4 separate regions of the Homo sapiens genome follow, and regions 2, 3 and 4 are each linked to region 1. The links come from fine-mapping of genetic effects on gene expression. A gene starts in region 1. Each other region holds a variant in brackets. All regions are shown on one strand. Distances are from middle to middle.

Region 1 (2,686 bases):
AAAAAAAAAAAAGCTGCAGAAGGGAAGGATATAACTTTATAAAAAAAGGTCCTTGTTCACAAGGAGCTAATCACTTACTGGCCAGAGAAGAAACGTGTTCCTTCTTTGCAATGGCTGTGTTTTTGGGTTTAGCTAACTCAATTCTTTATGTCCTCAATTTATGAGACCGCATCAAAAACGTTTTTGCCACATCTCTGTGGGAAAGTAGGTGAGTCAGAATGAGTGCATAATATATAAGTATATATTTTAATGATAATGAATGTGTAGATTAACAAACCCAAACTTTGTTTTTGTTTTTTTGAGAGTCTTGCCCTGTCGCCCAGGCTGGAGTGCAATGGCATGATCTTGGCTCACTGCAGCCTCTGCCTCCCGGGTTCACAGGATTGTCCTGCCTCAGCCTCCGGAGTAGAGTAGCTGGGATTACAGGTGACCGCCACCACGCCCGACTAATTTTTGTAGTTTTTAGTAGAGACGGCGTTTCCCATGTTGGCCAGGTTGGTCTTGAACTCCTGACCTCAAGTGATCCACCCGCCTCGGCCTACCCAAAGTGATGGGATTACAAGCGTGAGCCACCGCGCCCAGCCAAACCCAAACATTCTAAAAGCGCAGAGTAACCGCTCCCCTCCCCGCCAACGGTAACCAGCATCTTCGTTCTCCAACCAGAACAGCTGTATGCACCGGTGTATAAGCCTGCCTTAAGTGCTATTTTTAATCTTTTTTAAAAACAGGCCTTAAAATAACTCATTTGGGTACAACTCCAGCGGCTGGTGGAGTGGGCTTAATATATTAAACAGCTGTTAATTTTGGTTTCTTTTTGGTAACAGCGACACGGAGATCCGCATTTGTCGCAGTTTCCACCGCGGGCGGGAAGTGTAAACACAAGAAATACAAACATAGCGCAACGGCTAAAGGAGTGTCACAGCGCCAAACCTTGCTGGCTCCGCGCCAGGCCGAGCCCCACCCTCTCAGCTCGCGGCCAACACCCCCACCCCGCCTCACAGCCCGCCGCGCCCGCGGGGCGACACCCCCCACTCCATCATCCCGGAGGTGGTGCGGCCGAGCCCCGGACCCAATTGGCGGAAGCGGGGCCGGTTGTGTGCGCGCGCACAAATGCCCGGATGCGCCGCGACGACCCGCGCGCTCCCCTCGGGCGGTAGGGGGCGCGCACCGAGGCACCGCGGCGAGCTTGGCTGCTTCTGGGGCCTGTGTGGCCCTGTGTGTCGGAAAGATGGAGCAAGAAGCCGAGCCCGAGGGGCGGCCGCGACCCCTCTGACCGAGATCCTGCTGCTTTCGCAGCCAGGAGCACCGTCCCTCCCCGGATTAGTGCGTACGAGCGCCCAGTGCCCTGGCCCGGAGAGTGGAATGATCCCCGAGGCCCAGGGCGTCGTGCTTCCGCGCGCCCCGTGAAGGAAACTGGGGAGTCTTGAGGGACCCCCGACTCCAAGCGCGAAAACCCCGGATGGTGAGGAGCAGGTACTGGCCCGGCAGCGAGCGGTCACTTTTGGGTCTGGGCTCTGACGGTGTCCCCTCTATCGCTGGTTCCCAGCCTCTGCCCGTTCGCAGCCTTTGTGCGGTTCGTGGCTGGGGGCTCGGGGCGCGGGGCGCGGGGCATGGGGCACGTGGCTTTGCGGAGGTTTTGTTGGACTGGGGCTAGGCAGTCGCCGCCAGGGAGGAGGGCGGGATTTCGGACGGCTCTCGCGGCGGTGGGGGTGGGGGTGGTTCGGAGGTCTCCGCGGGAGTTCAGGGTAAAGGTCACGGGGGCCGGGGGCTGCGGGGCCGCTTCGGCGCGGGAGGTCCGGATGATCGCAGGTGCCTGTCGGGTCACTAGTGTGAACGCTGCGCGTAGTCTGGGCGGGATTGGGCCGGTTCAGTGGGCAGGTTGACTCAGCTTTTCCTCTTGAGCTGGTCAAGTTCAGACACGTTCCGAAACTGCAGTAAAAGGAGTTAAGTCCTGACTTGTCTCCAGCTGGGGCTATTTAAACCATGCATTTTCCCAGCTGTGTTCAGTGGCGATTGGAGGGTAGACCTGTGGGCACGGACGCACGCCACTTTTTCTCTGCTGATCCAGGTAAGCACCGACTTGCTTGTAGCTTTAGTTTTAACTGTTGTTTATGTTCTTTATATATGATGTATTTTCCACAGATGTTTCATGATTTCCAGTTTTCATCGTGTCTTTTTTTTCCTTGTAGGCAAATGTGCAATACCAACATGTCTGTACCTACTGATGGTGCTGTAACCACCTCACAGATTCCAGCTTCGGAACAAGAGACCCTGGTTAGTATTTTTGTCTCGTGTAACTTTTAAGAATAATTTATTTTATGAAGTGATAAACTAAATTTCGTATACCTCAATTGTAGCATGGCTCTGTAAATAAAATTGTATGTGCATAGCTTAAAGTGTGCTACCTCTGGCGTAACTGCGTGGAGTTAAAAACTGTTAAGAACTGGTCAGTATTTTTTTAGCCATTTGCCACATTTGCTTTAAAAATTAGTTCCATTACATTGTTAAGCGTGGTTGAAGTTACGTTTGTTACGTGACTGATTTTTTTTTCCTTTTTGACCTCCCAGTATTTAATTTTTAAAAATGGTTTCTAAAAGTCAAAAAAGTTATTCGTGCTTGTTTTAAAGATTTTTGTCATTAGAGAAATTTTAAAGTAAAACCTGAAAATTCCAGGCTTTTTGCTCCA
Region 2 (2,686 bases), 21 kb before region 1:
TCTGGTCTAGTTTGGTCTGGACTCTAGTTTACTTTTCTTTCTTTTTAACCTTACTTACTTTTTATTTTATTTTTATGTGTTTATTTTTTGAGACATAGTCTCGCTCTGTCACGCAGGCTGGAGTGCAGTGGCACGATCTCGGCTCACTGCAACCTCCACCTCCCAGGTTCAAGCGATTCTCCTGCCTCAGCCTCCCGAGTAGCTGGGACTACAGGCGTCTGCCACCACGCCCGGCTAATTTTTGTATTTTTAGTAGAGACGGAGGTTTCACCATATTGGCCAGGCTGGTCTCGAACTCCTGACCTCGTGATCTGCCCACCTTGGGCTCCCAAAGTGCTGGGATTACAGGCTTGAGCCACCGCGCCTGGCCTAACCTTACTTACTTTTTAACTGTGGCAAAGACTCTAGTCTTCTTTTAAGAGTAACTACAATTTACTTTTTAAAATTATTAAATAATTTTCTATCATACTTTTATGTGCTGTGTTTTATGGATTATGTGTTTTATGTGCTGAATTTATGTTTTTAAATCACTTTTTAAGTTATCTGCATCACTTTTAAGCAAGGTGGTGAGAGATAAAAACCATGTCGCTTTACTTTTAAAGTGAATGACCGCCTCTAAGCTTGAAAACATCACAGTTAGACTGTGTCATTTTCTGGTCTTTAGGTGGAGCCACTGCTATTGCAGGTTTCCTAAACCTAAACCTATTTATAGAGAAATTCCTCTTCAGTCATTTTATAACCAAAGCCTCTTGTAAGTATTTAACATTACATTTTAGCTCAGTGAATTTCACTATATAGGAAAGATCCTGAGAGAACTAACAATATAAAATATGTAGCCAATTCATACATATTTTAACATTCAGAAATACTACTTATTAGAATTTGAATTTATTTCTCAGACTTTTCTGAGAGGTTAGAAGGGCCCTGTTGTGTTTAACCCAAAGACCAGTTCAAAAACTAGGGAAGGAGCTGTTTAAGAGGAAGGAATGACTAACGTCTGAAGGTCAGAGGACTAAAATCCTGGTGATTGAACAAGTTGCAACACATGGGTTTTCCCTCTAAAAAAACAAAACAAGCCGGGCAAAAAAAAAAAAAAGAAAAAAACAAACAAAAAACATTCTGTGCTGGCCCCAGTAATTACTTGTACCCTTGCTCTTTCATTTCCTCTTCTAATGATAAAGGAAGCTGCAGTTGCTCAACTTGTGAACTGAAAACATGG[G/A]ACAGCAATGACACAGGAAAATGGGCAAGTCCAGGCAAAAGCCCGTGCGGTGGCCAGAGTCCGGGCCTGCCTGCTTTCCCATCATTTTCCTTTCCCATGTTTGTTCTTTTCTTCTTTTCGCCTTGATTTCTTATCGTGTTCCTTTTTTTTTTTTTTTTTGAGATGGAGTTTCGCTCTGTCACCCAGACTGTAATTCAGTGGCACGATCTTGGCTCACTGTAAACTCCTCCTCCTGGGTTCAAGCAATTCTTCTGCCCCAGCCTCCCAAGTAGCTGGGATTACAGGCGGGTGTCACCATGCCTGGCTAATTTTTGTATTTTTAGTAGGCACGGGGTTTCACCATGTTGGCCAGGCTGGTCTCGAATTCCTGACCTCAAGTGATCCACCTGCCTCAGCTTCCCAAAGTGCTTGGATTACAGGTGTGAGCCATCACAACCGGCCTGTTACATTTTTTTAAAAAATATTTTCCACCACCCCTTTTTCCTTGTATCACACCTCTCCTTTAAGCCCACAAGTTAAAGCATTGATGAACACTTCTACTTCAACTTGGGAATATTAATACAAAAAAAAGACCCAGCACTCACTGAAGTACAACACAAAGCAAATCCCTTTTACTACAAATTCCTTTTTCTACAGCTCTTTCCAATGGATTTAAATTGTTCTTAAATGAAATTTTTAAACATATAAAATTGGGAAACATTTTAATTTTCATAGAGACCTATAAATCCATGTTTTCCCAAATTTAGTCCTGTCGAGGGTATGGGAAAACAAGTACCATCTTACATTCATCATGAGACCATAAATTGCATAGCCACAAAAATGCTCATGCCCTGTAACCCAGAAAATCCACTTTCAGGAGTTTATCCTAAGAAAGTAAAGATGTGCAAAAAGATTTTCTTTGTAGATGGGGTCTCACTGTCACCATGGCTGGAGTGCAGTGGCAAGATCATAACTCATTGCAGCCTCAAACTTCCATGGTCAAGCCATCTTCCTACCTCAGCCTCCTGAGTAGCTGAGACTACAGGCTTATGACACCGAGTGTGCCTAAGTTTTTTATTTTTTTTTTAATTTTTTTGTAAAGACAAGGTCTCTCTTTGTTGCCCAGGCTAGTCTTGAGCTCTTGGCCTCAAGTGATTCTCTGGCCTCAGCCACCTGAAGTACTGGGATTACAGGTGTAAGCCACCACGTCCAGCCCTGCATAAAGATTTTTGTGCAGAGAAGTTTATCACAGCATTATTATTATTATCATTTTTAGAGACAGGGTCTTGCTCTGTTGCCCAGGCTGGAGTGCAGTGGTGCGAGTATAGCTCACTGCAACCTCCAACTCCTGGGCTAAAGCAATCCTCTTGCCTCAGTCTCCTAAGTTGGTGTGCACCATCAGGCTGAGAAACATTATTGATAATAGCAAAAAAAATAGGAAAGCAACTAAATGTCCAACAGTTCTTGGTCCACCCGTCCATGTGACTC
Region 3 (2,686 bases), 61 kb after region 1:
TGCTGCCTGGACCTGTTGCCTATCAGTTGTGGTCTATGCTTATTTATATTACCAGGAAAACTGACAGAGAGCCACCCAGGCATAAAAATACCAGCTTGTGAAAGATTACCTGAAAGCCTGTGCATCCAAAGTGACAATTAGGGAAGGCACCTTTGGAAGTGGCCTGCACGCAGAAATGCATGCCGCAACTTGCTGTTGGTGGGGTCAGGCTAACGAGTCTAAAAGGGAATGTTTTCCCCTGAGGCATGGAAATCCAGTTCCAGTCCGTCTCTCCTCCTGTCCTTCCACCCTAGGTCCCTCCTACCCCGGGTTTCTGTTTATATTATTCCCTCTAATAAGAATATCTCTCCTTCCATGTTGCCTACATGACAATCTCATCCTGTCCCTTACCCGGCTGTCTTATTCCAAGATTGGAGAACTGGGGGCCCTCCTCCCACTGTATCCTGTCTGAAGAGCTCTTTTGTTGAGCCCGCAAAATGGCTTTAAAATCATGATACTTCATGTACAAATTCAGCTTCTCTTTACAAACTGCAAGATCTGGCAGTATTGGCTCCCCAAGGCTGCATGACAATAATTAGCTAGATCTAGTAGCAGCTGTCCCTGTTAGATGGGATGTAAGCATCACATTTCTCCAAGCTCTTCACTACTCCCTATTGTATTTTGGCTCTGTGCACCCTTGGGGTACACTGCACCTTCTCTAAATCTGTTTTTATTCTAATTGCACTGCTATCACAATTACTTATCTGCGTGTCTGTCTCCCCTATTCAACTCCAGGGTGAGGTGTGTGTCTTGTTCATCTTTCAGTTCCTGGCTCACAGTAGGCAGACACAGAATAAGTACCTGAATGAATGAAGAAGGCCCTTGGTAATGAGGAACATGTCTGAGCATCTCTCAAACAATCAGTCATCTCCACTGCTCTTATGATATTAGCTGATAAGGACAGAGTGAAGGGCCTATTGTGCCTAAAGTTCTTTTAACAACTGCTGGATCAAAATAAACCAGCTGGCACTTCTGGGTGAAGGCAATAAGGAGAATGGAAGAAATGAAGAGAAACTCACCTTGGAGTGGATACCAAGAGTATCCATTTGTAACACCATTAGGAAAGTTCATTTTGTTTTTACACTCGTCTCCTTTCTTCATGTTGGGATTTCTTGAAGCATAGGTATGTGCAAGATATTGAAAAACATCATCATCAGGCGTTAAGCTTCGGGAGTATAATGCCCCAGTTGCTGCATTTAAAAGATGAACCAAGACCTTTAAACTGACTTGAGAGTAAGAGGAAACACAAACACCATATTAGCAAAGACATAATCGCATCACACACACATGCTCTAATTTCCCTAGAGAGAAATCCTTCATCCACCTCCTCTATTCTTCTTTCTACTTTATAATAAACATATGCAAGGTGATAGCCCCCAAATAAGTCAGA[T/C]ACAAATCCAAACTCCTAAATCAGCTTAAAAATTAAGTGTCCTCTCAGTCACTCTTGCTAATTTCTGGAGGTAAGGACAATTTCTTTAGGTATTATAGGGGTGAATAAAGCTACTGTAATATTTTGGGTCCTCATCCCACAGAGTTTTAAGAAGAGTCAACAATTATTGTTCATATATGATTAGCAAAAAAAAAAGTGAGTTGTTCCAGTTTTATGTTATTTTAGCCATGTTGTCTCTTGTCAGAGAATCAAAATCTGACTATTTAGATTGTATTTTCTAGAATCTAAATTTCACTAATTCACTGATGCATGTCCAGCTGTGGGTTGTCAGTTCAGCCACACTGCCCATCTGCTGTTGAAGAATCACAGGAAGGATGGCTAGAGTTGGGAACATGAAGCTCTTTTCACCCTGCCAGAGAAGTTAAGAGGGGAAGGGAGAGCTGATCCCCATCCAGAGGCAGAGAGTTTTCAGCCCCACTCTGGACTTAAGAAGCCAGAACTGGACCCGCACCTGCTTACCTTGAACACCATTATCAAATGGGTAACTGGCCACGAGGGCACCACCATGGAGGTTTGCAGAGAGGACAAACGTCTCTGTTTTCAGCCACTTCATGACTGCCACAGTTTCAGGCTGCCTTGAGACATTATTATATTCAAAAGCATCGGGGAAATTTCGATTCAAGTCATACTGGTTATAATTTTCCCTTTAAAAGAAAGAATATTTTAGGGCTTATTGATAGGGCATGAGGGAGTGGATTCTTACAGTGTCTTGCCCTTTGGTTTAGGCTCCAGGTGTCTTTCCAAACGTGAGTATGGGTGTGGTGGATGGCTGCCCTTGTGGCCTGCCATGACCCACACCTGGCACTTACATCCCATGGCATCCCCTGCCTCGTGATCTGCTCTCACCAATGAGATACTAGCTATTGTGATGCAGGCAGAGGTTTGATAAGTGTTTGTATTTGGGACTTCTGCTCTTAGATGCTCCCTTTTGGGACCTTGAGATCCCAATGGTCGCCACGTGGAGAGTCCACGGAGAGTCCATGGCTCCAGGTAAATTGTCTCAGAAAGACCAGAGCTGAGCCCCAGACCTGTGGCACGGACAGTAGCCATCCCTGCTCTGCCCTGCCCAAATTCCTGACCTATGGAATCAACAGTAAATAAAAAGGCTGTTGCTTTAAGTCGCTAATTTTGGGGTGGTTCGTTAAGTAGCAACTGATAACAGAAACAACACTAAACACATTACACAGAAGTACTTGT
Region 4 (2,686 bases), 150 kb before region 1:
CTGGGTATGATGGCTCATGCCTTGTAATCCCAGCACTTTGGGAGGTCAAAGGGGGGTGGATCACCTGAGGTCAGGAGTTCAAGACCAGCCTGGCTAACATGGTGAAACCCGTCTCTATTAAAATACAAAAATTAGCCAGGTGCAGTGGCAGGCACCTGTAGTCCCAGCTACTCGGGAGGCTGAGGCAGGAGAATCGCTTGAACCCTGGAGGTAGAGGTTGCAGTGAGCTGATAACACACCACTGCACTCCAGCTTGGGTGACAGAGTGAGACTCCATTTCAAAAGAAAAAGAAATATTTTGATTGGTATCTGTTCTCCTTCAACGTATTTATAGACAAACTAAATTTGTAGGTATGTGAAGATGAAGGGAAGATTTGTTCTCGGTGTATGGTATTCATTCAGCTAATGTTTGAATACCTGATACATGTCAGGCACTGTGTTGTTACCTTCAAATGCTCACAGTCTAGCAAAGAAAAAGTAGTGTGGGAAAATGGGATGGTCTAGATCATGCTGATGGAGCCCTACAGAACTACAGCATTTGAGTCATAGCTAATAGATTAACTTGGCAGATACAGTTGGGGTGCTTTATACATGATGATGTATTTTAAAAGCTGCCTTTAGTAACTTTTGGGGACAGGATATTTCTGTTCCACTTGAGTATATTTTTTGTATATAAATCGACTTTGGTGTATTGTTTTTAAATAGGAAACCTATTTCCAGCTGGGCGTGGTAGTTCACGCCTGTAATCCCAGCACTTTGGGAGGCCGAGACGGGCAGATCACAAGGTCAGGAGATGGAGATCATCCTGGCTAACATGGTGAAAGCCCGTCTCTACCGAAATACAAGAAAAAAATTAGCCGGGCATGGTGGTGTGCGCCTGTTGTCCCAGCTACTCGGGAGGCTGAGGCAGGGGAATCACTTGAGCCCGGGAGGCAGAGGTTGCAGTGAGCCGAGGTCGCGCCACTGCACTCCAGCGTGGTGACAGAGCAAGACTCCGTCTCAAAAAAAAAAAGAAACTAAAATGCCAATTTTTTCAAATAGTATCTTGTCATAGATTATAATTTTAACAAAGTTACATAATACTACAGTATTCTTCATTGAGCTATAATTATAGACTGTGAAAATTGTAAAAATAACTGTCAAAACATTATTGTTTTTTAACGTTCCTTTCTTTCTATTGTAGGAGCAATTTACAGCAATGAGGGATTTATACATGAAAAATGGACAAGGATTTGCATTAGTTTATTCCATCACAGCACAGTCCACATTTAACGATTTACAAGACCTGAGAGAACAGATTCTTCGAGTTAAAGACACTGATGATGTAAGCTGACTTCCAAATAAATATATTTTATTTCAAAACCCTGATTATAATTGTTTAAGTCTAAATTTAAATTCATTTTAAAGCTTGTGTATTTTGGT[T/TG]GGGGGGGGGGTGTTGGTTTTTTTAAACTTTTTCCTTGAAAGGCAAAAATACCCATACATGTTTTCAAATATATATCATGTGGAAAGTGAGAAATTTCCTCCTTTGCCATTATCCTGTGAAAATTAAATGTTACACCCTTCCTTTTTTTTTTTTCCTTTGAGATGGAGTCTTGCACTGTTGCCCAGGCTGAAGTGCTGTGGTGCGATAGCTGTACCTCCCGGGTTCACGCCATTCTCCTGCCTCAGCCTCCCGGGTAGCTGGGACTACAGGCGCCTGCCACCATGCCCAGCTAGTTTTTTGTATTTTTAGTAGAGACAGGGTTTCACCATGTTAGCCAGGATGGTCTCGATCTCCTGACCTTGTGATCCGCCTGCCTCAGCCTCCCAAAGTGCTGGGATTTTAAAGGCAAGAAATACATTAGATTCTAACATTATTAATTTAGGTGCCCCTTCAGAGTCTACCATAATGGAGTTTAATTCCTCATCACACTAAATATAGCAGTGGTTCTCAAAATTGATTTTGCATCAGAATCACCTGTAGGACCAGTTAAAACAGATTGCTGGGCTGAGATCTCAGAGCTTCTGATTCAGTAGGTCAGCAGTAGGACCCAGGAATTTGCATTTCTAACAAGTTTCGAAGTGGTGTTGGTTTTGCTGATCTGCATACTGTAAGAACCAGGCTGGGCATGGTGGCTCACACCTCTAATCCCAGCACTTTGGGAGGCCAAGGCGGGTAGATCCCCTGAGCTCAGGAGTTCAAGACCTCCCTGGGCAACATAGCAAAACCCTGCCTTTACCAGAAATTTAAAAAAAAAAAAATTAGCCAGCATGGTGGCGCGTGCCTGTGGTCTCAGCTATTTGGGAGGCTGAGGTGGGAGGATCACTTAAGCCTGGGAGGTGGAGGTTGGCAGTGAGCTGAGATCACATCACTGCACTCCATCTAGGGTGACATAGTGAGACCCTGTCTCAAAATAAATACATAAATAAGACTCATTGTACTGCAGTTTAATTTTAGCAAATATTGTGAGAGCTGGGAGACACCCATGGTAAATGCTTTTATTTTCTGGACTTCTGAAACAAGGGAATTTGGGGGGACCCTACATAATTACAGCAACCTCAGGGAACATTTTTTAATTTGTAAATCCATTTAATAAGTGGCTTGATTTTTAGTAAATTTTGATTGGCTTTTTTTTTTTTTTTTTTGAGACGGAGTCTCACCCTGTCGCCCAGGCTGGAGTGCAATGGCACGATCTCAGCTCACTGC

The links.
Region 2: its variant is fine-mapped to the expression of MDM2 in whole blood (INTERVAL, PIP above 0.99).
Region 3: its variant is fine-mapped to the expression of MDM2 in whole blood (TOPMed, PIP above 0.99).
Region 4: its variant is fine-mapped to the expression of MDM2 in whole blood (INTERVAL, PIP 0.98).

The regions. Positions count from the first base shown.
Region 1 is chr12:68,807,019-68,809,704 of GRCh38, forward strand. MDM2 (MDM2 proto-oncogene) reads left to right here and starts at 1,159. Exons shown (of 11, transcript NM_002392.6): 1 at 1,159-1,473; 2 at 2,190-2,274. The coding sequence starts at 1,460. RefSeq lists a silencer at 857-1,246 and enhancers at 1,448-2,647, 1,747-2,136.
Region 2 is chr12:68,786,479-68,789,164 of GRCh38, forward strand. No RefSeq gene overlaps it. Among named protein-coding and RNA genes, the nearest start is that of MDM2, 20 kb to the right of the region's middle. RefSeq lists enhancers at 767-1,321, 1,322-1,875. The variant G/A (reference allele first, on the strand shown) is at 1,220.
Region 3 is chr12:68,868,267-68,870,952 of GRCh38, forward strand. It overlaps CPM (carboxypeptidase M), which reads right to left. Exons shown (of 9, transcript NM_198320.5): 5 at 1,949-2,133; 6 at 1,059-1,229. Among named protein-coding and RNA genes, the nearest start is that of MDM2, 61 kb to the left of the region's middle. The variant T/C (reference allele first, on the strand shown) is at 1,430.
Region 4 is chr12:68,652,929-68,655,614 of GRCh38, forward strand. It overlaps RAP1B (RAP1B, member of RAS oncogene family), which reads left to right. Exons shown (of 8, transcript NM_001010942.3): 5 at 1,184-1,324. Among named protein-coding and RNA genes, the nearest start is that of SNORA70G, 27 kb to the left of the region's middle. The variant T/TG (reference allele first, on the strand shown) is at 1,423.